2 separate regions of the Homo sapiens genome follow, and region 1 is linked to region 2. The links come from fine-mapping of genetic effects on gene expression. A gene starts in region 2. The other region holds a variant in brackets. All regions are shown on one strand. Distances are between the middles of the regions.

Region 1 (15,865 bases), 64 kb after region 2:
ACCTCACCATAAAGTACTCACAGGCGTGGGCAGGGCCTGGGGAACACTGTTAAGAGTGCAAACAATAAAGAGCTGTCACAAAAGACAGAAAATGGTTTCTTACAGTCATAATTATGCTTAAAAAAAGACAAACTGACATTTTGGTACATTTCCTTCTAGATGTCCTTCTTTGCGTATTTTTTTTTTGTAGAGATCGTAACGCATACATATTTGAATCCTGCTATTTTTATTCCACGTAACATAAACTTTTGCCCACGTTGTTATAAACTCTTTAGCGACATCAGTTTAATTATTGAATAATACTCCATTTATGGATGTACCATAGTTTATGTAACCACTCCCTCATTGCTAAGCATTTAGTTTCCAATTTCTCCCCATTATAATCAAGGTACTCTGCTCAGAAGATCTTTGTGCATTAAACTTTTTCCATTTTTTTAGATTATTTCATAAAGATAGGTGATCAGGAGTCAAATGCTCGGTCTCCGGGAGTGATAGTCTTAAGATTCTTTTCTTAAAAATTTTTTTTAAATAGAAAAATTTTTATTTTTAAGATTCTTGAGAATATATTATTGTTAATTTGAGAAATGTTCTCATTGTTCTTCAGAATCCAGGCTCTGTGTTCAGACAAGTGGTGTGCAAACGCTTGTTCTGGCATTTACAGTATGGACTTGGCCACCTTGGTTGACCTTCCTAAGTCTCAGTTCCTTAGCTATCAATTGAGGATTATGACTGCACCCTCCTCATGGGACTGTTGTGAAGATGAACAAATAAGACAGCAAAGCTCAGTGCTTGGCACAGAGTGTGCTCCCCACATATTAGCTAGTACTAATTTGCTTATCTTTGGTTATCAATGAGGAAGGGCCTTTTCACTTCTGCCTATTGTCTGTTTCTGTGTGTGTATGTGTGTCTAAATTAAGATATATGGTTTTAAGGTGAAAAATGAAATCATAAGGGACTATTTATTAGGTCAATTAGCAGGCATATAGCTCTTTTTCCCCCCTTTTAGAAAGGGTGCTGCCCAGGCTGGCCTTGAATGCCTCAGCTCAAGCGATCAGCCCCCTAAGTAGCTGAGACTACAGGTGCACACCACCGTGTCTGGCAAATATAGCTCTTTCTCAGGGTTCATCTAACCTCAAAGAAGAGCAGATACTAGTGCTGTACAGTTTCTACCCAGCATTTCTCCTTTGGGCTAGTTTTGGAATCTATCATAAGACTTATCTTTCTCTTTTAATGTTTAAGACTAACTACATTCTTAAGTATGATTTTTATTGTGTGAAGAGAACCTGTGGGAATACATTGCCAATTGTGGAACAAATTCAGAGACAGAACTAGATTTGATTTCCAGAAATCTGTAGTACTGCCGACCTCTCTAAGAGCACATTTCTCAGCAAAGCAAGAACTCCCAGGGCAAGAATCCTGTCCGCTGGGGACAGCTTTAGCCCCTTAGGAGCACGGAGCAGTCCAAGCAGCCGCTGCAACTTCCCCTCCCACTGACGGCATCTATAAATCCATTTCCTGTCTTGTAATTATGTCTCATGTGGTAATTAGCCCCTTTATATAAATGAAGCCAAATTTCCTTGTGTAATGGACTGAAGCCCAAGTGTATGCGAGGAGTTGAAATGCCGCTTTGGCAGGAGGGGGGCCTCTGAGATCTCCTTGGGGGCAGGGAGGAGAGCCCTCTGTGTGAGGAGTCTACACTGTGCCAGGCGCTGTGCTGGTACTTTGCATGCACCATTCCATACCCTCCTCACACTGATCCTTCCTTCCGGGCACCTTTGCCTTTGCTTTTATTGTCCAAGGCCAGCTTCTGTGCACTCTTCAGGTAGAAAATCAAAACCATCAGTGGTACTTAGATGAACACGTGACTCTACATGCCAAAGGCTCTGCGGGGTACAAGGAAGGAAGTGCTGTAGGAACCAGCCAAGGACAGCACCCCTGAAGCCTTGTTCCTTCCTGGAATTTCACGTGGCCCACTGACCCTTCACAGCCCTGAATGTGCACAGGCACGTGTGGAGCCAGCATCAGGGTGGGGCTTCAGGATGCCAGGAGCCCAGAAACCAGCGCAGGCACCCAGCTGTGGGAGGAACATTTGAAATATTGCTGTAGCCCTTGGGAGGACAAGACAGGGACACAGGGGCAGAGACAAGGATGGAGGGGGCGGTTGGAAGAGGTGGGTGCAGGCTTATGCCCTTGAAAAGGGAATTTGGGACAGTGAAGAACGAGGCCACATGTCCCTTTACCCCATCTCCCTCTATCTTCTTTCTTTTTTCCTTTCACTCTTCTCAGGCATCTCCTTCCGATAATCAGGCTGCATTTGCCGGCAGCCGGGGGGGGGGGGGGGTGCGGGGGGGAGGTGTGTGTGTGGAATTCACGGTCTTTTAGCTTGGACAGAGAATTAGAGGGGGCAGTGAACACAAATTGTCAGGAAGGCTAAGAAAAGAGTACGGAGGACATTGGATTAGCCTTGAATCTTTGAGCAGGCTACTTAGATGCTGCTAAGTCCCTTGGGGTCCTGATGTCTAAAATGGGGATAATAATTGATGTCTTGAACACCTCACTGGACTGAGGAGGAAGTGGAATAGACTCGATTTTGATTCAAGGGAATGTCTGAGTATATACTGGTTTTTCAGGGATGTGCCTGGGGAAATACGTATAAATGCATGTTTATATGTAAGTATGCGCACATTGCCCATTCCACATACACATGGTCAACTGAATGTATGTTTTTTTTGTCTTTTAGGAATTTAAAACCACCACATATAATAATAAGTACTTACTACTCATTAACCACTTACTCTATGCTAGACCCTATCTCAGCTCTGTACATATATTTCTTATTTAATTCCCTAAATCCTATGAGGTAGGTATTATTAGCCCCATTTTACAGAAGATAAAACTGAGGCACCAGATTAGGATGATCACTCAAAGCTATGGACCTAGTAAGTGTTAGAGCTGGAACTTGAAACAGGCCTGAATTTCCTAATCTTTTGTCTTAATTGCTATGTTGTTTCTAATAATCTGGGCTTTTCTTTACATCTATAGGCAAACATTTTTGGACTCAGACTCAGATACCATTGCCCCAAGGCGGACTCCCACTTTCTCATCTCCAAGTGGCTCTGATACAAAGTGATCTAATGCTTAAAATGAGAAAGGCTTTGAGGGTGTGCCGTGACTTTCATCTCTGCAGAGCCCCAGGATGTTTCTCCAGCCCCCTTCTCAATATGCAGGGAAGAGAAGCCTTAGACGGGCTTCAGGCTCAGGACAGCAGTGTCAGGGGCTCTGCGTAGGGGGTGTCCCTTCTAGAAAATGGCTCTGGGATGGCTGCTTGTGGACAGGATCCTGCTGCCTGTCTCTCTTTCCTGCCTAGTGAAAGCTCTGGGCCCCTGTGCCTTCTCCTTTACCTGCTTCTTTCTTCCTGAACTGGTGCCCTCTGTTTCTAATTACATGGAATTCTAGAGGGGTTCACTACAAGTCCAGCTTCCGTGCGAGCAAAAGACCCTTCTCCATTTTTGCCAGCAAGTTGGCAAGAGCTGTAGGGTAGGAGTGATGCGGTGGGCTCTAGAGCCATGGGTTCAAATCTTGGCCCTTGGCTATGTCACTCAATTTCTCAGGCCTTCCTTTTCCTCCTCCTTTTTTTTTTTTTTTTTTAAAGAAGGGGGCTATAACACCCATATTATAAGATTATTGCTGGTATTAAATTAATACATAGAAAGAACTTGGGACAGTGCTTTATTAAGTGCTCAGTAGCTCTCATTTTTACCCCATGTCAGATACTTCACTAGGTGCTGCATGGACACAATTCTCATTTAGATCTCACAACACCCCAGTTAAGTAGATGGAAATAAGATCTCCATTCTGCAGATGAGGAAACCAAGGCTAATGGAAGTTAGGGTCACATAGCAAGTAAGTAAGAGAGCTAGAATTCAACCAGGGCTGCCTGACTTCAAGGCTTATTCTCTTAATCTCTTTATCACACTTCAGGTCTCTCAAAGGCCTCCTTGTAAAGAAATTCCCACATATCTTTCTTATCTTTTTCTGGGACTTCCTAAATAAAACCCCTGGAGTCCAAGGGTAGCTGCAGCTATCTCAGGTCACATGATGAAAGGTGGGGGCAGTGTGGTGCTGGGTGACCTTGTGGTGAGCTGAACCCTATGATTGCCAGAGTCCGCCCCAACATGAATGCTGGGGACTAAACTGACTGGTAAGGAGTTCCCGTCCTCCTGGGGTGTCTGGCAGAATCAAGATGAGGTCTGAAGGGTCTTCAAGGAGTGAGAGCAGACAGGGTAAAAATAAACTTTCACATTAATCCATTATCCTAATGATCGTCCTAAAGATAAGCTTGATCAGATATGAGCATTGCTGAGATTGATTTGCCTAAAATAAGGATCTCATTTGCATTTTTCTGATTTTCCCCTACTTCATTTAGCCATATTAAAAGACAGCTGCAGCTCTCACCAAGGACAAACATTTGAAAGACATGGATATTGCCTACATGTATTTATGGTGCTTAGGATCCTCCCTACCCGCCTGTGTGTGCTATAATCTCTTTGATAGAGGAGAGGAGGGCAGATTCAGGAACCTCAAGGTGATAGCTCTGGCTTTCCTTTGATCACATTTTAAAACTTACATATTGGTAGAACCAAAGACTCTGCCTGGGTGGAAAGGATTGAAGAAGACCCCAATAATCTAGAGTCTAAATTAGAAAATTTAATTTCGCATATCTCTTTCATTAATTATTCATATCAGCCCTAAGAGATAGCTGGGGCAGGCATTTTTATTCCCATTTTACAGATGAGGAAACTGAGCTCCAGTGAGGTTAAGGTATACACCTTAGGCTATATGCCTTGCCAGTAGTGTCTAAGATCTCTTGACTCCGATGCCTGGGCCACAAACCTTCTGACTTCTAGGCCAGGGTTCTCTGCTAGTGGACCTAGATGCCTGGTAACAGCTCTGGGAAGAACCACTTGTCTCAGAGGGAAAGACTCGATCCTGGTCTTACAGGCAAGACCACACCTTTCATCAATTTGACCTCCAAAGGTTGTTTCATGGAGCAGACAAGGCCAGTGAAAATATCCATGAGCTGATGAGAAATGTTTGTGTGTGCTTCTTGGCAGAGCTGACCATGGACAATAAAAACCCATAAGGCCATTGCTGCTAAGCTTCAGAGAGATCCCACTGATCCTTTTGCTATCTTTGGCCTGAGGGCTAGTCAGGTGGACTACCTTTTGAGCGGGAAGAACTTGGAACGTGGGATCAGAGTCATGGATTGAGTCCTGGCTTTGCATTAATGTCAGCTGGTGTTTATAAAGGTGCCTTCTGTGAATAATTTATTATGTTATTTAATGTAGTACATTAGTATTTAAATACATTATTTAATACATTTATCTAGTACATTATTTCACTTAATACCACAGCACTCCTATGAGGTGATACTAATGTCATTGTCCCCATTCCATGGATAGGAAAAGAAATTCATAGACATAGAAGGTAAATAACTTACCCAAGCTACTCAGGCTTGTTCTCTGTAATTCCAAATCTTATTTTTTTTTTAATTTTAGCTGCTTCTTCTTCTTCTTCTTCCTCTTCTATTGAGATAGTCTTGCTCTGTTTAATTTTAGTTTCCTCCTCCTCCTCCTTCTGTCTCCTCCTTCTTCTTCTTCTTCCTCTTCTTCTTCTTCCTCTTGTTCTATTGAGACAGTCTCACTCTGCTTAATTTGTTCTTCTTCTTCTTTCTCTTCTTATTCTATTGAGATAGTCTCACTCTGTTTAATTTCCTCCTCCTCTTCCTCTTCCTCTTCCTCCCCTCCTCCTCCTCCTCCTCCTCCTCCTCCTTCTTCTCCTTCTCCTTCTCCTCCTTCTCCTTCTCCTTCTCCTTCTCCTTCTCCTTCTTCTTCTTCTTCTTCTTCCTCTTCCTCTTCTTCTCCTTCTCCTTCTCCTTCTCCTTCCTCTTCTTCTGAGACAGTCTCACTCTGTTGCCCAGGCAGGAGTGCAGTGATGTGATCTCTGCTCACTGCAACCTCCACCTCCTGGTTCAAGTGATTCTCCTGCCTCAGTTTCCCAAGTACCTGGGATTACAGGTGCATGCTGCTATGCCCAGCTAATTTTTGTATTTTTAGTAGAGATGGGGTTTTGCCATGTTGGCCAGGCTGGTCTCAAACTCCTGGCCTCAAGTGATCCGCCTGCCTCAGCCTCTCAAAGTGTTGGGATTACAGGCATGAGCAATTGCACCTGGCCTTTTTTGTTTGTTTGTTTAAGATAATATATTTACTTGGGTCCAAATTCAAAAGATACAAAAAATAAAACAGTAAAAAATCTCCTTCCTACTCTTGTCCCCCAGCCACTAGTCTACCCTCCTGGAGGCAAACAGTTTTAGCAGCTGCATGTTTTCTTCCAGAGATTTGTTATAAGTATATAAGCAAATAGGCAAGTATATTGTTCCTACTGTTTTTGTATGTGTGGATGTATAAATCCCTTTGAATTGAATTGAAGAGGCGTGGCTAAAGTTCTCCATATAAGACAATAGTATGATTTGATAATAATACAAAAGCAGTGTCTTTAGTTAAACATACTCTATTCTTTAAATTTTCTGACCTTTGCTCTTGTTTTTTCCTCAGTACAAAATGCTTGACTCCTAACTCACACTCCTCACCTGCCAAGCTCCTTGACACCCTTCAGGATGCGGCTCAGACGTCATCTCCTCTCCAGCAACATTCCTCAACCAGCCCCTCTCCCCCTTAAAGATGATTCATTTCCTCCTTTGTATTCCCACATTTTTCACATTATGTAATACTTATTTTTTAAACTAACTGTATTCCTAAAGATAGCCTGATAGGTCCCAGGAGGACATTCATTCATTCAACATACACACACGCACACATACACACACACATGCATGCACAATATATCTATATACATACATATACCATATATACGTAATGTATATATATATTATATACATTATATATACACACACACACTCTCTCTCTATATATACATATATATATACATATATACACATATATATACATATATACATACACATATATATACACACATATATATATACACACACATATATATACATATATATATATATATACACACACACACACATATATATATATACACTTGTTTGGTGAGGGTCTGCTCTTCTTTTTTTTTTTTTTTTTTTGAGACAGAGTCTCACTCTGTTGCCCAGCCTGGGGTGCAGTGGCGTGATCTTGGCTCATTGCAAACTCTGCCTCCCAGGTTCAAGTGGTTCTTCTGCCTCAGCCTCCTGGGTAGCTGGGACTACAGGCGCACACCACCACGACCGACTAATGTTTGTATTTTTAGTAGAGACAGAGTTTCACCATATTGGCTAGGCTGGTCTCGAACTCCTGACCTCGTGATCCGCCCACCTCAGCCTCCCAAAGTGCTGGATTACAGGCATGAGGCAACGTGCCCGGCCAGTCTTCTCTTTTTAGTTTTGGTGGCAGCATATTAAATACACCAGTCTGCACCTTGCTTTCTAAGAAGCTTTTATTGCAGGAAAATTTCACACATACACAAAAGTAGAAAAAACAGTGTGAACCCCCCATATAGCCATCAACCCACTTCAACAATGATCCACACTCGGCCAATCTTTTTGTATCTTCACTTCCTCTCCCTCTCCCCCTGATTATTTTAAATCAAATCCCAGGCATCATATAATTTCATCTATTAATTCTTCAGCATATATTTCTAAAAGAAAATTACCTGAGAAAAAACACAACCTCTACACATGTAAAAGAAAACAATAATTCTTTAATACCATAAGCTACCTAGTCAGCATTCAGATTTCCTTGATTTTTTTTCTCTCTCAACAAATGCTGTTTTGTTTGAATCAAAATTCAAGTAAGGTCCACACATTGCATTTGGTTACTTCCCTTGCTTTTTATCACGAACAACACTCTTAGAGATGATTTCCTACCAGAACATAAAGAACTACTTTATTCTTTTTCCCGTTGCAGAGTATTCTTTGTATGAATGTCCTAGAATTCATTTGACCAGCCTGTTGGTGGACGTGTAGGTCATTTTCAACCTTTTGCTATTGCAAACAATGCTGCATTGAATAACTTGTAAGCATGCCATTTTGCATACGTGGGAGTA[T/A]ATCTGCTAGTTGAATTCTTGGAAGCGGAATTTCTGGGTGAAAGGATATGTATGTTTGTAATTTCAAAGATTATTGCTAGATTGGCTTCTCAGAGGTTGTACCCATGGAACTGATAACTTCCACCAGCCATGTAGGTGAGACCCTTTTTTCCTGTACCCTCCTCAGAAGCACCATCCCATCTCTGGCTTCTGTCCATGCAATTCCCTTTCTCTAGAAGGTCCTGTCTCACCTTGTCTATCTGGTGAATGCTTATTCTTCAAGGCTCAGGTCAAAGGCCCCATCGTAGCATATATCCCACTGGGTACTCTTTATGACTCATCTCTCCTCCATTGCACAGTTAGGTCCTTGAGGGTGCAGACCAAGGCACACAGTAGGGGGCTTCCCTAAACTGGTCTAGAGAGGTGCTGAAGGACTGAGAGACTAGGGCATAATCTCTAGGTCTTGTTCCAGTGGGAGTTTAGGGACTTCTGCTCAATTTCCTTGGATGGAGCAAGCTGAGTCATGGGTGCATCACCCACTTTTGGAACCCTATGACCCCTAAGTATTGGAACCCAGAATAAAACCAAGTGCTACATTGCCCAGCCCCAGATGCCTGCAACAGATGGCATGGCATGGCTGAGGCTGGGGGTCTGATTATCCCAGACCTGTACCTCTGTGGATTCTGACCTTTCAAATTGTTTTCTATTTAATCTGGGCTGGAAGACCTTGCTTTTTGTTGTTTTAAAATCTTTGCTCTCTTCCTACGCCACAAATGAAACTGTCATCCTCCAAATTACTATGATCTGGAAGGGCAGGAGCAGAATTAGGCCCCACAAAAGCAAGTTAGGCGGGCAGGTGGGAGTAATCCTGTGTGCCCGAGGTGGGGGAGGGTGCAGCAGATGGCTCCCCAGGCAAGCCCTAAAAGCCAGGATTAAAAAGTAATTTTCAGCATGCTGAAAATGGGACTGCAGATTTGGGTCACTGCAATTAACTCTTTCTCGGCTGCAGGCAGGGACCTTGGAGCTGAGAAGAGTTATCCTGCCTAGGGGAGCTGCCAGGTGAAAACCCCCTTGGTTTCTCCTCCTTAGGCCTCAGGGAGAACAGCTCCTGGGTCTCTTCTTGAGAATGGAAGTCAGGTCTGCAGGGTATGCTTCTTTCTGGAGACTAGCTTCCTGCCTCCCCTCTGAATATGGCGTCTGTTGGAGGGAAATCCCCCCCAAGGCTGTGGGAGGCATTTCACCTCAAGGGATTTGATTGTTGTATCAGAGGCCTAAAGTGGCACCTCATTCTGTTATCAAAAGTACATCAGGCATTTGCCCCACAAAAGATTAGGTGCTTTTTTGCCAATTACTTCCTGTGCTAAAAAAAACTACTGTTTTTACCTCAAATACAGTTTTTCAGTATCTGTCCCTGTCCCCACTACCCCAACTGCCCAACAAGAATTCCTTTATCTCAAAAGCCAATGCATTAAATTATCTTCCTGGAGGAATGATTTTATTTTGCATTCTTGAACTGTGGTATTGCAGCCAACGGGTTTTCCCTTTTCTCTTTGGTTGCCAGGAAACTCGAAGCCTCAAATTCAAAAACTAAATCCATGACATCCATTAATGCATTTTATTTTTCCCCTTATCTTATTATTCTATTCTAATTCACACATTCCTTGGTCCTGATTTTATTTACCTGTTTATATTGTGCTATATTATCGAATGCATATCCTGTATATCAAATCCTTTGTGCAACTAGGTAGAGTATAAATAAGTAAATGCAGAAATAATTTCATACATAGATTAATTTGTTCATCTTTTAAAATAAGCATCTGTTAGGTGCTTAATACTGTGCTTGAGTGACTGATAAAATAAAATGCATTTAAACATTTATCACCTATTATGTATCAGGTATTATGCCTAGGACATTTTATGTCATCTATTTTAATTTATTTCCAACAATAATCTTATGATATAAATAATTACATGAGTTGGAATACATAAAGCATTTAGCCCAGTGCCTAGAAAGTACCAGATAAGTAGTAGCTAGTCTTATTAGGTATCATTATCTTCATTTTAAAAAGGGGAAACTGTGATTCTGAAAGGTTAAGTTATACCATTGCAAGAGTTTAATGAAAAAAAAAAGTACCAGGAGCATGGTAGATAGTAGGTGTGGCAGACATTTGTTGTCTTTTTGGCTACCCAGAATCCATTGTACCTTATTTCAGTAATAGTTTCTTTCTTTTTCTTTGTGAAACCTCTCCATACCGCATTTGTAGTTTGTGAGCTCTGGACCAGGCTTCATTTTCACTCCAGGGGGTGAGCAAGTGACTCAAGCGTGGCTGACCAGTGCTCTGGATTCCCCTAGCCACAGCCGTTGGTTCAGGGGTGCAACTCATGACCTAGATTGGTCCAAAGTGAAGCCTAGGATTTGTGTGAGTGTTTTGGGGGAAGAGACTGGTTTTCCTTACCAGTGGATGGGAGCTTGACAGTTGGTATATGCAGCACATGTATACACAACTGGAGATTAGGCAGCCACCTTTCTACCCTGAGTAGAAAGCCCACAATGGAGCCAACACCGAAAAAGTGGAGGCTAGAGATGGAGAGAGCAAAAATGGGTCCTGAGGACATTGCTCAGCCCCCTGGAAGTCTACAAGGTCTCAAGCCTCACCAGAAGCCTATAAGGTCTATTCCAGGATCATTTGATTGCTGAAACGATAAACTGTTTTTTTTTTTTTTTTGCTTAATCCTGTTTGAGTTGGGTTTCAGTCATTTACAAGTAAAACAAATCCTAACTTATAAAAGGCATTCATTATGTTACAAAATTTTTTTTTAGAGACAGGGTCTTGCTCTGTCACCCAGGCTGGAGTGCAGTGGTGCAGTCATGGCTCACTGTAACCTCAAACTCTTGGGCTCAAGGGATCCTCCTGCCTCAGCCTCCCAAGCAGCTGAGATTACAGGCACGTGCCACCATGCACAGCTAATTTTTTGTTTATTCTTTGTAGAGACAGGTCTTGCTATATTGCAGGACTTGTCTTGAACTCCTGGCCTCAGCAATCTGGAATTCAATCTGGGAGGCCAATCCTTGGCCTCGCAAAGCACTGTGATTACAGGTGTGAGCTACCACATCCTGGCCCTCAACGAATTTTTGCATCTTTCCTTTTCCATTTAATGGACTTGCCCAGTGGCATAGCTAGTAAGTGGCAGCATCAATATTTGAACACAGTTCTGGCTCAGGAGCCCATGCATATCATGTTCCCTGCCTATAGGAACTTGGACTCTAGTTAAGCTCCCAGACAGAGACAAATGAAACAGGTGGGTGATGAGTCAAGGCGATGACAGTGGGCCATTGGGCAAGTTACCAGCATAGTCCTTCTGGAGTGCCTTCACCCTGCACTCTCATCCCCAGAACCTTTGAAAGGTCTGGGAGAAGCACAGATGCAGATTCGCAGACATGCCAGCTGGCTCTGCATGTTTCTATGCACGGAGCTGATGCTTCCTCTGCTCATTTAAAGGAGAAAGCTTGCCCAGAGCAGAGGCTGAATGAAACAGACACATCCACACCACTGGACCCTGATTCACCATGTGACCTCTTTGGCTGAGTCATCTCCTCTCCTAAAATGAGCTTTCTCATCTGCAGAATGAAGGTGAAGCTTGACAAATGAGGTGCAAATGAGATCTCATAAATAGTTAGATCAGAAAGTTGCTGCTGGATAGCCCTACCTGAGCAACTGCAGGACTTGATCTCTCCTCTCCAGCATATCTGAGAGTCATCGAGTTTGTGAATAAGTCCAGTCCTACATCATCTCCACTGCTCTGGAAAGACCCTCTGCTCCTCCAACTCAAGGCCTTGTGTGGCCTGCACTGTCACCACTGACCAGACTGCCCAACTGTAGCACTGCCTGCCTCTGGGTATTAGCATGCTGTACTGCTGCCTTGGACCTCTGATGAGAAAGGGAGGTCCCTTCCCCAGTCCTGTTCTGGTGGAGAGATTCAGTAGGAAGTTGCCTGCTTTTCGTGCCCTGGTAAACTTGTAAGGAAAGAGGGACAGACTGTGAGCAATTGGGAGGGTTGGTGTGGCCCTGGGTCAGCAAGTTTGGCCACTTTCAGGACAACTCTCTGCCTAGGGAAGTACACCAAGCTACTCGCAGGAGGACGAATTACAAGCGTGGGAAAGATACTATTGTTACAGGCAGCACATTCGAACAAAATCAGCCTGGTAAGACAGAATTCTGCCAGGGAGTTGCTCATCCAGTTTTGCTCACTCTGGGCAATGGAATCCTCCCCCTAATAATCAGCTAGGACCTACCCTGTCCAGAAAATAAAGATGACTAAAAGATGGTGATCATTAATATTTTAAAACTGGCTCTCCAGAAAAAAATGTTTATTATAACTTTTGTATCATTTGTTTATTATAAATTTTTAGATATTTTACAGAGAGAAAGGATGTTGCTATTGACTGAATGTTTGTATCTGCTGCCCCCTCAACCAATTCTTATGTTGAAGCCCTATCCCCCGATGTGGCTATATTCAGAGATGAGGACTTTAAGGAAGTAATTAAGGTTAAATAAGGTTATAAGGGTGAGGCCCTAATCTGAAAGGATTAGTGTCCTTATAAGGAGAGACTCCAGAGAGCTGGGTCTCTCTGCCCATGTGCAAGCGTATGCACACTGAGGAAAGGCTACTTGAGGACAAAAGAGAAAGCGGCCCATCTACCAGCTGGGAAGAGAACCCTCACCACAAACCAAATTGGCTGAAACCTTGATCTTGGACTTCTGGTCTCCAGAATTGTGAGAAAATAACTTTTTCTTGTTTAAGCTACCCAATCCATGGTATAATATTTCGTTATGGCCGTCTGATCTGACTAATACAGATGTGAAGCACCCAAATTACAAAGAAGAGTAAACTATACAATGCTTTATTGTAAATTTCACACAGCCAACTGATTCTCACAGTGCTTTTGTTGACCTTTGTTGAAATCTTGTTTCCCCAGCCATAACTATGGTTTCAATTCAACCATGATTTGACAAAATCAGACTATGAATCAATGCTATCCAATTTGCCAAAGAAGAACTCACATCATTAACAAATGAGGATAATTCCAACAGGAATGTCAGTTGATAGTTTCATTTCCATTAAGGAGTCAAATGAAAGAAAAACAACAAACGTGTATCAGAATTTCATTTGTTAGTCAATGACATAGTGACTTCTTTGCTGAATCAGGTGGTAGTATTTGAATGCTGGAAGAATATTGCCTTGATTTTTTGGTACTAGTCACAGTGTAACAGTTACAGACACAACATGATTTTAAGTTTAATCTGCAGTATTAACATTTTCTCCATCATTATCTGAAATCAATACAATCAACAATTTCCATGGTGTAAATTCCACCGTGGCTGATTCCAACCTACCAGTGGTGAGTCATCGAATGTAGAGTGGGGAAGAGGAGATACACCATCATATAATCTTTTCATCACATACATACAGTAGATGTAAATAACCTTAAGAGCAGAGATGATAATAAAATATAGTAAAATAATTAGGAAGTGAGGAGTACTAAGTATCTTTGTTTTTAATGTAATTTATTTTGTTAAAAGTGTATATAATTAATTTGTAATGATGGCTGTGTATAATAACCAGCTTGCAAAATTCCTGAAAATTTAACAATTAGCTCTTTCGAGCTGGTATCAGCTAGCTCCAGCACTCCACTGTCAAGCAGAGTTGTGCCTGGCTCAAAACAAACTTGGCAAAGAGAACTAGATAACCAGATCAATTTTTCAGCCTACTAATACCTAATGAACTTTGTTTTTTAAGAGCTGGGGGGCAGGGTCTCTCTATGTTGCCCAGGCTCATCTCGAACTCTTGAGTAGCTGGGATTATAGGCACCAGCCTCTGCACCAGACTCCTAATAAATTTGTAAAGCCAGATCCTATTCCTTAAGTGATATGATTAGCCATGTGGCTGAGGGAGTCATTCTGGGCCTCTGTGGATCCTCTAGGACAGTGCTTCTTAAAGTGTGATCCTTGGACCAAAAACCTCATCATAACACTAAGTTTTTTTGGAAATGCACATTTTAGGGCTTGCTGCCAACCTGCTGAATCAGAACCTCTGAGGATAGGGCCCAGCAATCTGTTCCTGATGTTTCTGGTGCCTGTTTCAGACGCATCATCAGGTTTGATGTTCCTTTCTGAGGACTATAGTTTGAGCAGCACTGCTTTTGGATGTATCCCACATTGTTCTTGCCCCATGCTGTGGGCAATAGAGTGTAAGCTTTCATGTTCAGAATGCTTGTTACTGCTTCCAGGTGTGCTCAAAGTACAGTGGTTAGGAAAGAGTTTTCATCAATCTGTCCTTGTGCAAGGGTTCACCTCCATCCAATGCGCTTGCAAGATGATGGTAAGGTACAGGTGCTCCCAGAAGTCTCACTGACTCCAGGGCTCAGAGCATACGTTGTCTTTGTGCAATCGGTATTCTCCTGCACTGTGAATATAGCAGAGGCAGTTTAAATTGCTTTCCGTCAGGAAAGGGGCTTTCTACTTGGATTGTGAGCTCGGTGTAGGTGCTCCATTTGTTCTGTCTTTTGACACTGACTCTGACATAAAGTTAAACCTTCTTCCTTCTCTGTAAATTAGCTGAATCCATAGAAATCCTGGGTCAAATGGGCTTAAACAATAAGTCATTTTATTATTTTCCATAACTGAAGTCAATAGGCTTTGGGGCTGGTTGGTTTAGAGGCCCAGCAATGGTATCAAGGACCCAGGTTCTTTTCATCTTTCCGGTATGCCAACGCCATAGTGGTCCACCCTCCAGTTGCTGGCAAGATGGCTGCAGTGGTTCCAGCCATCACAGCCAGAGAGTACAAAGTCCAGAGCAGGGAGCTCTTACCTGGGCTCCACAGACAAACCCGGAGAGCCACGAACCTGAGTGGGAGAAAGAATTACACCACTAACCTCTAACTGAAATGTGGCATTTTCTTCAATTATGGATGCAGGCAACATCTATAGTGGTAGTAGTGTACTGTGGCTTTGCCACCAAAAGAAATCATATGTATTTTCATATAACATTACAATTACAAATATATCATAAAATATCATTTATACTCAATCCCACTTTGAAATTGTAGTAGTTATTAGACCTGCCATTAAATATTGATATTGAATGTGTTAATAAAGTATCACATATATTATTACACCACAAATATATTGTTTTAATATTTTAATACGTGGTTAAATTATAATTGTTTACATGTAATTTATTTTATATATTTTAAAATATTATTCTAAGAAGCAGTTCACGGAATTCATCTTACCACAAAAGGGATCCTGGCACCACCCCCCCACCAAAAAAAGGCTAAGAATTCTTGATGTAGAGGAAGAAGACAGGCCATCTCCTGCAGTGACTCTCTCTTTTTTTTTTTTTTTTTTTTTTTTTTGAGAAGGAGTTTTGCTCTTGCTGCCCAGGCTGGAGTGCAATGGCACGATCTCAGCTCACTGCAACCTCCGCCTCCTGGGTTCAAGCAATTCTCCTGCCTCAGCCTCCCAAGTAGCTGGGACTACAGACATGCACGACCACGCCCAGCTAATTTTGTATTTTTAGTAGAAATGGGCTTTCTCCAGGTTGGTCAGTCTGGTCTCAAACTCCTGACCTCAGCCTCCCAAAGCGCTGGGATCATAGGCATGAGCCACCACACCCGGCCTTCTTTTTTTTTTTTTTTTTTTGAGACAGGGTCTCACTGTGTCACCCAGGTGGCTGGAGTGCAGTGATGTGGATC
Region 2 (15,865 bases):
ATCTCAGTTCTCTCTACTCTTCTATTTTACATATCCAAAAAAAAAAATTAAATCTGACGAAGTCTCTCTTACTTAAAAACTTTCAGTAGTTGCCATTCGCAGTTTTAACCTTTTCTCATCATTGCCCGCCTACGGAGCCTTTTTAGGCTATTTTCCTAATCATCCCCTCGTAAAATCTTAATACCACAGATATGCTATTTAACTGTTTATGTGCTATATGTCCACATATGCTTTATTAATAAAAAGCTGTTTTTAGTGCCTCAAGCATGACATTCCAACCTCTTCATGATTGAGCTCTAGCTTACACTTCCTACCACCCACTGCACTGCACATTCAGCATCTCCAGCCCTGTAGTCTCCTGCATATAGGCCCTTCCACCTAGACTGCCCTTCCCCATTGGTTGACTCTCATTCTTAAAACTCATTGAAGAATTACCTATTTTAGGAAGCATCCTGACCTTCCATAGAAATCCCTCCTCTACACGCCCTTAATGTCCAGGGACTATCTCTATTGCTGCATTTATGGCAATGAATTATAATAATCCATTTACAAATCTATTTCACCCAGTAGGTCATAATCACCTTTAATCCTTATCTCCAGCACAGTGCCTGGCAAATAGTAACATACAATAATTGAATATTGTAAGAACAAGTGAAAATAATATATATATTTTTTGAGACACAGTTTCACTCTTGTTGTCCAGGCTGGAGTGAAACGGCACGATCTTGGCTCACTGCAACCTCTGCCTCCTGCGTTCAAGTGATTATCCTGCCTCAGCCTCCCAAGTAGCTGGGATTATAGGCATGTGCCACCACACCTAGCTAATTTTGCATTTTTAGTAGAGACGGGATTTCACCATGTTGGTCAGGAGGGTCTTGAACTCCTGACCTCAGGTGAACCGCTCCTCGGCCTCCCAAAGTGCTGGGATTACAGGCGTGAGACACCATGCCTGGCCTGAAAATAATATATTCTTAAGTTTTTATTTAATGGTTTCAAATTTAGTTTCACCTCTCCACCAAGGCTGAGGACACCCTGAGAGTAGGCATGTTTCATTGTTCATATTGTTTACTTGACTGTCAACTCCTCCAAAGCAATATGGTGACTTAAACATCCCTATACCTCAGTACTAAGCACAATACAGACAACAGCAGCAGCAGCTTAATAGAGGTTCGCAAAATTATTTATAAGACTAAATATCCCCATTTGGTGCTTGCAAAAGTGCTGGTCCACAGCGAAGTGACAATAAAAATATATAGACTAGTGAGTTCCAAAGGTGTTAAAAACTTTCACTGCCTCATAGTAGATATGACTCAATTAGCCAAATTATTTCAAAACTGGGTTTAGGTAAAGAGCACCAATCATTATGAGTGGCAGACATCCCCATATATACTCCCTCTACTCACACCATTACAACTAAGAGTTAAAGTTCAATCTCAGTAGAGTTCACTTAGAAGTCATCTTTCCATAATGCCAGAGTACCAGTTTTTTCTGTTTCTGCACTAGGTACCTTACAACTACTGACTATGTCTATCATGACTTGTTATGTGCTCACTGACAGTGTTACAACTGTTGCCTCAGACACTCTGTTACTTCCAAGCAATATCAGGATCACACTGACAAGCTATTTTAGTTATTGTTGACCTGTATTAGATGGCCCAATCAACAAATAATTCACTGGAGTAGCACAGAGGCACAGGGACTCAGAATTAAAACCCAAAGAGACGCATAATTAAAGAGCTTCTAACAGCTTCTGTCCATTTATTGGTTGGATGACAAATGAAAAAGTTTCTTTGGCCTTGACAATCTCCATCAAAGAAACCAAATAAGCATGTTAAGGAAACATACAGTATATGAACAGTTAATTCTTGTATTGCTTGGACATCAATAAATCTAATAAAAACGACCAAGAATAGTCACTCAGTTTTACAATATAGAAGGCAGAGAAAACTCTGACACTCCAAGTTGTGAAGACAATGAAACATTCCAGTACTCCATTAGAGGACTTTTTGTATCTACAGCTGCCTGTGCTTTGAAGGTAAAAACCCAGAATTTAAATTCAAACATATTCAGTTAATGCACTTATGCATTTTACAAATTTTTGTTCTGGTATAGCATATGAAAGGGAGCTATATCTGCCCCCATTTCTCTTTTATGACACATGCCCAGTGGTACTGATGGCTAAAAAGATGGTATTTAATGTTGAGGGATATTGTTCTAACTTGCTTGAAAGGGCAATGTTTCTGAAATGCCTTAAAAAAAAAAACTGTCTTTTTTTCTAAATTAATATTGGACAGTATAACATGAAATTTCTCCCCAAGAATAAAACAAGTTTATTTTTTGTGCTGTGGTTTTTTGAACATAATTTGGATAATCTTTTCAGGAGTCTAAGTACAAAATGACTTGCAACGTTATAGGCTATGGAGTTTCAACCACCAAGAAGTGGGTGCAGAATCATCAGATTGTTACTTTTATTCTCTACTCTTTATCTACTTTATGATCATGAACCTGTAATTTCCAAAAGTAAGTTCGTTTGTAGTTAAAATTAACAATACAGATTTCCACATTTCTAGTTTCATACGGATGCTTTGTTATGTCTAGAAGAGCAACCGTTTCCTTTTTATGGTGCAGGCTCTGCTTCTTCAAAGCTCTTTTCACAAAGCAGAGCCCCCAAAGAATCCAGCTGTGGCTGTTAATCTCGGCTGATAGTGGAGAAACTTCTCAGTACTACAGATTCTCAACCTGTAAAACACAGTTAATAACAAAATACCCTTTAGTATACTACTCTTTCTGATGCAACTTACTCCAGGATTTTCCCCAAACATATCCCAAAAGCATTCTGCATTTTTCCAAATTAGTTTGTTATGTGGAGTAAGAGGACCAGACAAAACATAAGAAAAAAAGATGCCTCTCATGTTCACAAGATGAGCAAGCTAGACAATCTCTACCATGCACAAGGGCTTATACTGAGTAATTTTTTTGTTAAATCACTATATTTCTCCCACCTCACTGGGATCTTTAGCAATTCACACTTTTTCATCCAAACATAAGCAAAGTGAATCTCTACTTCGACAATAAGGATGTCTTTCATTTGTTACATTCTGAAAAGAAAAAATTAATTTCCCAGTATATAAATCCATAATACTTTCTAAAACAGTGCAGATGATCTGACTAAAACACCTACAAAGTCCATACAAATGTGTATTATTTTTATTTGTTTTTAATTAGTTGACAGGACAGCACAGAGTATTTTCCCCTTGGCTTTAAATTCAACCATTTTCAAATCTCCCTGACATACAGTACAACTGAGGGGACACGCTACGTTATTTAGAGTCATGCCTCCAAAAATAGTCTGCATGCTGATTTCACCTGATAAATCTGACAATCTATGAAGACACTTCCATGCACATTAACACAACAGCTTGATTTTTCTACCAACAATAACTACAATAAAAACAACTAACATTTATTGATGCTTACTGTGTGCTAGACAGTGTAATCATTGGTTTACAAGAATTACCTCACTTAATCTTCACATCAATCCTGAGATAAGTACTATTATTATCCCCATTTTATAGATGAGGAACAGAGAAGTCAAATAATTTATCGAGATCACAGAGCTAGTAACTATCACTACAGTTTTGAAAGACAGATAAAAGTAACCTGCTGAAGTTATTAGAATAATAAAATTCAAAGACCTCCAACATTACTTGGAGTACACAAAGGCAACAGAGCAAGTGAATCCCAGGATTTTTGATCTTTTAATTAATCAGGCAAGTCACAAACCAAAATGCTAATTTTATAAAAAAGTCTTTTCCCAGACTCACTTTTACCAAGGTGGCAATATGTGCCATTAATTCCATCTCTGATATGTTAAGTTGCCAATGTCAAAAACGGTCTAGGCACAGCGATCCTCAAACCACTCTCATGCGGTCAACTTCCTCCATCTCTCAAAATTATGAGCCCCTGAAACTCTTTGTCCCAAAGTTGTTACATCTTTAACCACAGCATTTTCCTCTGGCAAATGTGAACTGCAGACAAAAAGGTAGATTTATATTACTCACCAAATGACTGAAGTTACTATTTGTGGGTTGCTTTGTGTTTTGTTTTTGCATTATGAAAATGTCCATGTGGGTGTTTGGAGGCTGTAATGTCTCAAAAAGAAGGTCAAATTGTATATGATATCTTGATAACCCATAAACAACATTCTATCAGTGGCAACAAATGTTATCTCAGGTTATCCCACAATCACATTACCAGGTAAACTGGAACTCTTACTTTGAGATAAAATACAGCAGACAGTTGTTAATGAAACCTTAATTGAACTGTCACAGCACCATCCTTACCAGCAAGCTAATGAGTAATTCACTACTTTTACACAACTGTCCAATACTGATAAGTTATTCCACTAGTTAAATTCAACAGAAAGATAAATCAAGTCAGCTAGACTAAATTGTTCAGTGATAAATCTGGTAAAATGCTGCATCACTTCTACAAATATCTCTCCTTGTCTACATGGAGAAACAACAATCTCTCTCAAAATTGCATGCCACTTTTTTAGCCATCAGTTAGTACCCCTGGGTGTATGTCCCCAAGGAAATGTGGGCAAATACAGTTTCTTGTCATATGCTATTCCAGAAGAATACTTGCAAAGTGCATTAAATGAATATATGTTTGAATTAAGTGAATCTTATAATACCCCGGTAGTTAGTTACATGGCGGTTTCAATCAAAGGATGCATCACTGGGAGAACATTTTTATGTTCCATTATAATCATTTTAGAAAAAAGTTGTTTCCAATTCATAAGGTGCTTCCTAAATTAAAAAGATACATTCTGTTTCAGTTAAAAAGTAAAAAACCTCACTAATATCTTTACCTTGGGTTTCAGAATATTAGTGCAATTCCCGGTAGTTTGGTTTTCAAATCTCTAAACAGTCTTACTTAGGTCATACAACAGTTAAATTTCAAATATAATAAGGAATTCAGACAGCAAGTCATTGACATGTAAATATAAAAATAGAAAAGCATTTGCATACTAAAACATACACCTGGAACTCTTTCCTTTTTCATACCAAATTGTATTTCACCTGTAACAGCTGATGAAAACACTCAATGCAGTTAACTAGAAAAACTTGGTTAAAAAAACAAAGACCCGAATCACGTGATAACACAGGAGGACGGCCATCCACAAGCCAAGCAGAGGGGCCTCAAAAGAAACCAAACCTGTACCTTGATATTGGATTTCTAGCCTCCAGAACTGTGAGAAATAATTTTCTGTTGTTTAAGCCAAAACAAAGAAGGACCTGACTAGATCAATTAACCAAGCAGCAAAGATGCCAAAGCACTGTGCTAGGCGCTGAGGAGAAAAGGATTACTACAGTAGACAATCCTTACCCTCAAGGGGCTTACGAATGTAGTCAGTGACACAAGACAAACCTGAAGTAAGATGGTGCACAGAGGTGTACTTTAAGTACATGAGACAAACTCCATAGGTGGTAGAGCAGTCAATCAATTAAAAACCTCTAGAATGGCTTCAAACCAAATATATGTGGGCTTTCAGATATCAAAGATTCATAGTACCCACTAGCAGAACGTTTGCTGTGTGAGATGTTTCAGCACTCCAGTTCTTTATTGCCCCCTTCCTTAAAAAAATAAATAAATAAAATAAAAACTGCTACAAGTCACATCACTTTTTGATAGAAATGTAAGTGAAAAATGCCTTTTGAATATATTCAAGAATGCTGCAACCCATTTCCCTTTCAGTATCCCTAGTTTTTAGCATTGTATGTAAGGCACTAAAAAAGAAAGTAAGCATCCAGATCTAAGAAGATCCAAACAAGTGCTAAAAGTTATTAGTAAATCAATGACAAAATTTAAACCAAGGAACAACCGTTTTCCTGTCTGTTCCATCCCCCAACCAAAGCTTGGAAATCCTCAAGAGTTAGGCAAGGATAAGTTCACAGTTAAATCTCTGAGATAGTCTGTGGAAGGGAAGAGAGGAAGGCAGGAACAGGCAGGTCCCTGAGCAGAATGACCAAGGCACCATTACCAGCTATACTCTTTTCCACCTTGAATCCCACACACCTTGAAGAAAGGACCACGCTGCAGCAGAAACTTCCTTGGGGACTAGCTGAGAAAACACTGGACTCTACTAGTTTTTTTAAAAAATGGATGAGATCACTTAGCAGCCTAGATTATCAAATCTGAAATATAAATAAGATGGCCAGTTAAAATGCATAAACAATGCACCCATCAATTTTAGCCTCAAAAACAATGACGAAAGGAGATATTTACCGGGCTAGTTCCAAAGAGTTCATTTTCCTGTGGTAATGGGCGCTTTTCTCGGGAGTAACAATTTTTGAATGCACTGAAAATATCAATTCATCTATCCAAAGTGGAATCATTAGTCCTTGGGAGAAAACCCAGTTCATTCTAGTTTTGATAGGAACAAACATATTTTATTATAAACTACTAATCTTTCTAAGGTTAGACCAAATAGACCAAAATGTTATATTTAAGAAGCCCTTAGGCTTTTACAAATATCCTAGCACTAGCAAAGGTAGGGTCATTTGTTAAAAAAGTATTATTTCCTACTACAGCAACTGACCAACAGATAACAGCAACTTAAGAGGCACTAAATGACACTAAAACATTACACTGAATGTGGGCCACTGCATAGCTAGTCTACTAACCTCATTTGTGGTACTCATGTGTGATGCTATATTTAATGCATTCTTATCAAAAGGCTACAGCTACATACTTCTCAACTGTAGCTTTATGGTTTAAAATAAACCACTCAAGCAATGATCTTAACTGGTTCAACTATGAATCCTATCTTTCTTCTGGAGATCAAGATCACAAAATAAGTGAAAAGACAGAAAGGACAGGAAAGTAGTTATGCAAAGTATATCCTAATGACAAGAGTATTATAAAGGAATTCAGTCTGGATCAGGTGCTAACACTTAATGCCACAGGGCCACTGAATCAAACACACGAGATGACCAAGGTCTTCGTAGGAATTAGTATTGCATACATTCATCTACTGATCCTGTGTTCAGTGGCTTGCTTAGGTTCTAATAGAAAAGTTTGGTAGACAGCACACTTATGTGTGTTGCTCATGAGAAGGCGCTCCACCAAAACTTGCCATGAGCCTAGACAGCCAATGCATTAGGCCTCTTTACCACATAAGTGAGGGTGGCTTCCTACAGTTGGGTTGAGAAGCTTGCTGCACCTTGGTCAACATGGAGACAACCATTAGAGATGGACTCATCCAATGACAACCAACAGAAGAAACCATGAGAGGTTGTGTTTTTCTTTGGATACTCACCAGACAACACCAAAGGCTCCATATCCAATAGGTCTATCCGGCTCAATATCCAGCTGCTGCTGTGGATGATGCGAGTGCTGATGATGGTGCGCCTTAACTGTAGCAGCTGCGGCAGCCTGTACCTGAGCTGGGGCTGCTGCAGCTGGTCCAGGAGCCTGCCCCGGTGCCGGTGATGGGAAATATGGCTGTTGTTGCCCAGGGTTTAACATGGCTGCAGCTGCAGCCGCTGCTGCGGCTGCCGCAGCTGCCGAAGAGGTGTGCTGCTGTACAGGGTGTACAGCGGCAGCCGACCCCGGATGAAGATGGTGTTGAGGGTGGTGGTGGTGGTGCAGGTGAGGAGGAGGGAGGTGTGGAAGGTGGTGGTGATGGTGGTGGTGGTGACCTGCTGCTGCTGCAGATGTACCGCCATTGTAAGCCGCCATCATTTTTGCGTTGGCTCTTGCGCCACAAAGAGACATTCAAAATAAATGCCCTTTGATTGGAAAGCAAACTGGGTCAAGCTGTCATTTGGCCATTTAAAAATGAAGAAAAACCACTCACTCCACCTCAAAAAACATAGAGCTTTATGTCTTCATCAGTCAATCCAAACAAGTTAGAGGATCTTGGTGTTTAATTTTGGGGTGAGCGTGTGTGGAAGGGTGTGGGTTGCCAAAAGGAAAAAAAAGGGAAAAAAGAAAAGAAAAAGGAAAAAAGGACCCCTTCCCCCCAGGATTCCTGCCACAAGTGGGTACTAAAACTCCATTCTTAATTTGGGGGAGGTTCCAACTTTGAATGTGGGAATAAAGGCCAAACCTCCCGACCCCCTGAACTCCACACACGAAAAGGATCAGGTAACACACCACCCTTGGAATCTTGAAAGAGGGTTGACTCATCTACCCCTTCCATTCCCACATCCTTTTCTAAACACCTACCACCTCCTCAAAAACAGGATTAAAAAAAATTCCCACCACCCTAAATGGAGAAGATGGGGGGAAATTTTCTGGGAAACCAGCTTCCAGCTTCCCCCCCCCCGAACTCTCAGGCCTTCCTACATCTCCCCCTACTCCTAGTCAGGTTGACCTGATTGGGGAGGGGGGGCGGGGGTTCCAAACTTTCCTGGGCAGAATAAGCCAGGGAAGGAGGCTGGAGTGAGGAGAGGAGGCGACAGCAGGACAGAGAGGAGAAAGAGAGCCGGGGCAAAAGTGAAGGGAAGGAGGTGCAGGGAGGAATGAAAGATGTGGGCAGCGCTCGGACGCCCAGACGGAGGGAACCGCCCCGGGAGAAGGTTAGGGTCCCGGGGCCAAAGAACAGGAGCCCCGGGAGGCGGGCGGGGTACGGTCGGAAGCGGGCTGACTCCTGCCCCCGCCGCCGGCTGCTTCTGCTGAGGAGGGTTGGGGGGGAGAGCGGGTGGGTCCCCCGCGCAACGGCCCCGCAGGGCTCAAGGCTGCTCCGTCTCCCCCCCTCCCCCCCACCCGGCTTCCGTCCCCGCGGCCGCTTTCTCCTCAGCCGCCGCGGCCGCCTTCTCCTCAGCCGCCGCCTCCTCAGCCGCCGGTTCCGCCGCGGCCGGACTCACCTCCCCTAGCAAAGCCGGATAGAGCGGAGCCAGCGTCGGACACGCGCAACCAGCCGCCGAGGCCCCGCCCCCGCCTTGCACGGACCGGCTGCCCTAGCCAATCCACGCCCACCTGTCCGCCACCGCCTCCAATCCTGGGCCAGGAGCTTCAGACAGGCGCACTGTTCGGCCAGTGGCAACAAGGTGTGGGTCTTCCGGGGAAATCCCGCCCCCGATCCGGGATGGGCAGATAGAAAGACCAATCAAAGGCAGAGTTTGGCTTGACCGACAAGGCTTAAAGCCAATTAAAAAGCAAAGATCTTTGTGACATTTTTCTTTCGCCTCTCTCCTCTTTTCTTCTTCTTCTTTTATTATTTATTTTTTTTTTTTTGGCAGGAGCAGGAAGCTGCGTGGTAATCCCGCCTGCAAAAGCTGGAAGAGAGGGGCGGAACGAAAGAACCAATCATGAGCCAGAGACAAAGAACAGAGTAACCAATCCTTGGGTTGAAAATGAAGTGGGATGGAACCTGGGCCAAATAGACACTTGAAAAAACAAATGGAAAAAAAAGGTTGATGTAAGTCCCACCCTTTAGATCTCCTATAGGACAGGATTGTGGAGAATTTGCTGTCATATCGAGACAACCTCTTCAAGGGGCGGGGCTTAGGGAAGGGGTGGGGTCTTAAAGTGGGCGGGACCTAGACGAAGAAGGCGGAGTCCAAATCATCACTGGTCCACTGATCCGAGATGTCCAATATCCCACTTAAGATGTAAAGTGTGGGGTAAAAAATAGGGGAAGAAAAAGGGAATGTTGAGCTTCAGAAACTCAAGGTCCAAGGTCACTCAACAAGAAGACAAAGGAAACTCAAAAGACTGACAGAAACTCAGTAGACTGACAGTTCGTAGTCTACGGCCGGTCCTCTCCATAGTTAATCCTGATCTTGGCAAAAAGAGGAGGAATCTCTGGCATTCAGAACTCCACTGTCGACAAATGATAAAGCTGTTGGTGCAAATTAAAACAAAAAAAGTAAACTTGACCACAAAAATAATAATTTTCCTCTATCTTTCTTTCTTAACAGGGTCACATTCTGTCACCCAGGCTAGACTGCAGTGGCACAGTCCTAGCTCACTGCAACCTCCAACTCCCGGCTCAAGCAATCTTCCCGCCTCAGCTTCCCGAGTAGCTGGGATTACAGATGTGCATCACCATGCCCGGCTGATTCTTTAATTTTTTAGAAACAGGGTCTTAATATGTTGCCCAGGTTGGTCTCAAATTCCTAGGCTCAAGAGATCCTCCCACCTCCCACCTTGGCCTCCCAAAGTGCTGAGATTACAGGCGTGAGCCACCGCCTCCAGCCTCTCCCATATTTTCTATCAAGTAAGTTTCTGTCATTGAAATCTTACTAAAATAGCATCTTTCCATCACTTCATTTATCTGAATTTACCCTTCCTTTAAAATGTGAAATAATAAGCTTACAGAACCTTATCCCTACTGAAACTGTATAGTTTACTCAAAAACTTGGAAGTCATCTTCGATCCCTCCTTTGCCTGTCCACATTGTCCCTTCCAATCTATCAGTCATCAAGTCTTCTTTTTTTTTTTTTTTTTTTTGAGACATGGTCTCTGTTGCCCAGGCTGGAGTGCAGTGGCATGATTACAGCCCACTGCAGCCTCCACCTCTTGGGCTCAGATGATCCTCCCACCTCAGCCTCCCAAGTAGGTGGGACTACAGGCACATGCCACCACACCTGGCTAATTTTTGTATTTTTTTGTAGAGATGGGGTTTTGCCATGTTGCCCAGGCTGAATCATCAAGTCTTAAACAATTTTAAATCCCCCTCACTTCTGCTACTTCCCAGTCACACAGCATTTACCCAAATTTACACCACTAACATCTTTAACCATTTCCCTGCCTGCAAGCTAGCTCTCCTTTGATCCATCCCCCTCTGGGGGCATAGTAAATTTTTAAAAATACAAATCTGAGACCAGGGGCAGTGGCTCACACCTGTAATCCCAGCACTTGGTGAGGCCAAGGTACGTGGATCCCTTGAGTTCAGAAGATCAGTCTGGGCAATGTGGCAAAACCCCGTGTCTACAAAAAATACAAAAATTAGTGGTACACATGTCTCTAGACCCAGCTACTGAAGAGGCTGAGGTGGGAGGATAGCTTGAGCCAGGGAGGTAGATGCTGTAGTGAGCTGAGATCCCACCAGTGCACTCCAGCCTGGGTGACAGTGAGATCCTGTCAAAAAAAAAAAAAGGCTGGCTGTACCCCTAAATAGCCTGGCATGATCTGGTTCCTGCCTACCTACCTCAAGGGTCTTATCTCTCCCTTCCACTCCACACTTCAGACATTCTGAACTTCCTGCAGCTCCTTGAATGCTTTCAAGCCTTCATGTATATCTTCAGCCCAAAACATTTCCCGCTCATCCTTCACTGCTCTAATTCATCCCTCAGGTCTTCGTGTAAATTTTACTTTTTTTCCTGGAAAGTTCTAACTCTGTTCTAGAGTATACGTTTCTGTTGTATATCTCCATGACACTGCCTCCCTCATATCGATATTTTAAGTGCTTGTTGAGTTTGACCGGGGACAGAGAGCTTGTCTGTCTCACTCAATGTTGTATGCCCAGTTCCTTAGGACAGTGCCTGAAAAAAAAGAAGACACTTGCTACAGATTTGCCTGAATTACTGAGTGCAGAAGTGGGTACAAACCCAAGCTCTGCCATTTACTTACTCTATAGTTTAGGCAACTTAACTAACCTTTCTCAATCTCAGTTGCCTCAACTGAAATAATACATGACTCATGAGGTCTATATGAGGGTTAAATGAGGTGATGTATTTAAACGTGCTTGGCAAATAGTGAAAATGCAATATAAATTCTCTTCAACACTCACCCTCATGTAATATTTGAGATGTTTCCAATTTTCCAATGCACAGCACTCTCCTCCAAAGTGTAGTTTCCTAAAAGCTTCTTAGATGTTCAGCAAATTATCTGGTTTCACCTCAGACCTACTGAATAAGAATTGGAGGAGGAGAGGAGGAATCTGTTTAACAAGCTCTCCAGGTCATTCTTACAAACGCTAGAGCTTAAGAAGCACAGGCCTAGAGTAAAGGAGCTTAGTCTTTGTAAACTTTCTTTTTCAGCGCTTAGTATAGTACTATAATAATACATAGAAAGTGCTTGATACATGTGAAATAAATAAATTAATCTAATCCACGAGAAAACAATTGTACATTAAGAGTTATTTATTCCTTCCACAAACATGTATTAAGCACCAATTATATCTAGGCATGGTGCTAACTTCAACTGTGGGGGAGAGGAGATAGATGTACAGATGCTTCTGGACTCATGATGAGTTTGTGTCCCTTCTTTTTTTCTTTTTGAGACGGAGTCTCGCTCTGTCGCTCAGGCTGGAGTGCAGTGGCGCAATCTCGGCTCACTGCAAGCTTCGCCTCCCAGGTTCATGCCATTCTCCTGCCTCAGCCTCCTGAGTAGCTGGGACTACAGGCGCCCGCCACCACGCCCAGCTAATTTTTTGTATTTTTAGTAGAGATGGGGTTTCACCATGTTAGCCGGGATGGTCTCGATTTCCTGACCTTGTGATCCGCCCGCCTCGACCTCCCAAAGTACTGGGATTACAGGCGTGAGCTACCGCGCCTGGCCGAGTTTGTGTCCCGATAAGCCCATCGTATGTTGAAAATGCATTTAATACCCTAACCTACTGAACATCGTAGCCTAACCTACCTTAACGTGCTCAGAACACTGACATTAGCCTACAGTTCTGCAAGATCATCTAGCACAGTCTATTTTATAATAAAATGTTGAATATCTCATAATTTATTGAATACTGTAGTGAAAATGAAAGGCTGAATGGTTGAGGCCGGGTGCAGTGGCTCACACCTGTAATCCCAGTACTTTGGGAGGCTGAGGCAGGCAGATCACGAGGTCAGGAGATAGAGACCATCCTGGCTAATGTGGTGAAACCTCGTCTCTACTAAAAATTCAAAACATTAGCCGGCCTGGGAGGCTGAGGCAGGAGAATGGCGTGAACCCAGGACGCGGAGCTTGCAGTGAGCCGAGATCACGTCACTGCACTTCAGCCTGGGCGACTGAGCCAGACTCTGTCTCAAAAAAAAAAAAAAAAAAAAAAAGCAGAGTGATTGAAAGGGGACTCAAAGTACACTTTCTACTGAATGGGCATCACTTTCAAATCATGGTAAACTAGAAAAATCATAAGTCAAACCATCCTAAGTCAGGGATCATCTGTATTAAAGTCTCTGCCCCCAGGAGCTCTAAGTCTCTCTGGTGCAAGAATTTCCAAAATGGTGTGTGCACACCATGGTGGGGGGTGCACAAAGTGACCCACTAGGCTCCTGGAAGAAATTAGTACAATTTCTATTTCATTTTTTAAATTTCATCTTTTAAAAATATCCATTTTGTCAATGTTTTATAATGTACATAATATTACAGAGTAGCACAAATGTATAACATTTATGAATAAATAAGAATACACAATTGAGGAGTTGTGCTCAAAAATTTATCAAAAACATTGGGAAATCATTGGTCTGATGATCATTTAATAATGTTCATGGTTTTAGACATGAAGTCCTTGCCCATGCCTATGTCCTGAATGGTATTGCCTAGGTTTTCTTCTAGGGTTTTTATGGTTTTAGGTCTAATGTTTAAGTCTTTAATCCATCTTGAATTAATTTTTGTATAAGCTGTAAGGAAGGATCCAGTTTCAGCTTTCTACATATAGCTAGCCAGTTTTCCCAGCACCATTTATTAAATAGGGAATCCTTTCCCCATTGCTTGTTTTTGTCAGGTTTGTCAAAGATCAGATGGTTGTAGATATGCGGCATTACTTCTGAGGGCTCTGTTCTGTTCCACTGGTCTATATCTCTGTTTTGGTACCAATACCATGCTGTTTTGGTTACTGTAGCCTTGTAATATAGTTTGAAGTCAGGTAGCGTGATGCCTCCAGCTTTGTTCTTTTGGCTTAGGATTGACTTGGCAATGCAGGCTCTTTTTTGGTTCCATATGAACTTTATAGTTTTTTCCAATTCTGTGAAGAAAGTCATTGGTAGCTTGTTGGGGGTGGCATTGAATCTATAAATTACCTTGGGCAGTATGGCCATTTTCATGATATTGATTCTTCCTACCCATGAGCATGGAATGTTCTTCCATTTGTTTGTATCCTCTTTTATTTCATAGAGCAGTGGTTTGTAGTTCTCCTTGAAGAGGTCCTTCACGTCGCTTGTAAGTTGGATTCCTAGGTATTTTATTCTCTTTGAAGCAATTGTGAATGGGAGTTCACTCATGATTTTGCTCTCTGTTTGTCTGTTATTGGTGTATAAGAATGCTTGTGATTTTTGCACACTGATTTTGTATCCTGAGACTTTGCTGAAGTTGCCTATTAGCTTAAGGAGGTTTTGGACTTCATGTCTAAAACACCAAAAGCAATGGCAACAAAAGCCAAAATTGACAAATGGGATCTAAATAAACTAAAGAGCTTCTGTACAGCAAAAGAAACTACCATCAGCGTGAACAGGTAACCTACAGAGTGGGAGAAAATTTTTGCAATCTACTCATCTGACAAAAGGCTAATATCCAGACTCTACAATGAACTCCAACAAATTTACAAGAAAAAAAACAGACAACCCCATCAAAAAGTGGGCAAAGGATATGAACAGACACTTCTCAAAAGAAGACATTTATGTAGCCAAAAGACACATGAAAAAATGCTTATCATCACTGGCCATCAGAGAAATGCAAATCAAAACCACAGTGAGATACCATCTCACACCAGTTAGAATGGCGATCATTAAAAAGTCAGGAAACAACAGGTTCTGGAGAGGCTGTGGGGAAATAGGAACACTTTTACACTGTTGATGGGACTGTAAACTAGTTCAACCATTGTGGAAGTCAGTGTGGCGATTCCTCAGGGATCTAGAACTCGAAATACCATTTGACCCAGCAATCCTATTACTCGGTATATACCCAAAGGATTATAAATCATGCTGCTATAAAGACACATGCACACATATGTTTATTGTGGCACTATTCACAATAGCAAAGACTTGGAACCAACCCAGATGTCCAACAGTGATAGACTGGATTAAGAAAATGTGGCACATATACACCATGGAATACTATGCAGCCGTAAAAAATGATGAGTTCATGTCCTTTGTAGGGACATGGATGAAGCTGGAAACCATCATTCTCAGCAAACTATCACAAGGACAAAAAACCAAACACCTCATGTTCTCACTCATAGGTGGGAATTGAACAATGAGAACACATGGACGCAGGAAGGGGAACATCACACACAGGGGCCTGTTGTGGGGTGGGGAGAGGGGGGAGGGATAGCATTTGGAGATATACCTAATGTTAAATGATGAGTTACTGGGTGCAGCACACCAACATGGCACATGTATACATATGTAACTAACCTGCACATTGTGTACATGTACCCTAAAACTTAAAGTATAATAAAAAAAAATAATGTTCATGATTTAGATCAGTGCTGTCCTAGAGAAATGTGAGAGCCACATATGAAATTTTGTGTTCTAGTAGTCACACTAAAAAGTTAAAAGAGGCCAGGTGTGATGGCTCACACCTGTAATCCCAGCAATTTGGGAGGCCAAGGTGGGAGGATCGCTTGAGCCCAAAGTTCAAGACCAGCCTGGGCAACATAGTGAAACCTCATCTCTATCAAAAAAAAAAAAAAAAAATTAGCCAGGCATGGTGGCATGTGCCTGTAGTCCCTGCAACTCAAGAGGCTGAAGTGGAAGGATCACCTGAACCCAGGGAGGTTGAGGCTGCAGTGAGCCATGATCATGCCACTGCACTTTAGCCTGAGCAGCAGAGTGAGACCTTATCTAAAAAAAAAAAAAAAAAAAAAGGAAAACAAAATTCACTAGCCACATGTGGCTAGTAGCTACTATATTAGACAGCCCAAATCTAGATCATGGGTTTGAATCCTTAATCTGTCCCTTACCAGCTATGTGAC

Direction of the effects. Positions count from the first base shown, and alleles are read on the strand shown. Sizes are in standard deviations (SD) of each study's normalised expression.
With allele T in place of A in region 1, the expression in tibial nerve of the gene that starts at base 7,979 in region 2 is lower (small effect, 0.25 SD a copy in GTEx).

Evidence for each region. PIP is the estimated chance that this variant, and not a neighbour inherited with it, causes the effect.
Region 1: its variant is the best candidate, but not a certain one, in a credible set for the expression of NLK in tibial nerve (GTEx, PIP 0.59).

What each region holds. Positions count from the first base shown.
Region 1 is chr17:27,971,107-27,986,971 of GRCh38, reverse strand. All of the region lies in intron 2 of LINC01992 (long intergenic non-protein coding RNA 1992), which reads left to right. Among named protein-coding and RNA genes, the nearest start is that of LINC01992, 13 kb to the left of the region's middle. RefSeq lists a cis regulatory region at 1-202 and enhancers at 10,218-10,347, 11,575-11,869. The variant T/A (reference allele first, on the strand shown) is at 8,131.
Region 2 is chr17:28,034,791-28,050,655 of GRCh38, reverse strand. It overlaps NLK (nemo like kinase), which reads right to left and starts at 7,979. Exons shown (of 11, transcript NM_016231.5): 1 at 7,325-7,979. The coding sequence starts at 7,782. LOC105371709 (a long non-coding RNA gene) reads left to right here and starts at 8,936. Exons shown (of 3, transcript XR_934637.4): 1 at 8,936-9,059; 2 at 9,252-9,430. It overlaps LOC102724517 (a long non-coding RNA gene), which reads right to left and starts at 7,318. Exons shown (of 2, transcript XR_001752820.2): 1 at 3,825-7,318; 2 at 1,730-2,739. RefSeq lists silencers at 8,592-8,821, 8,842-9,071 and enhancers at 9,239-9,533, 15,842-15,865.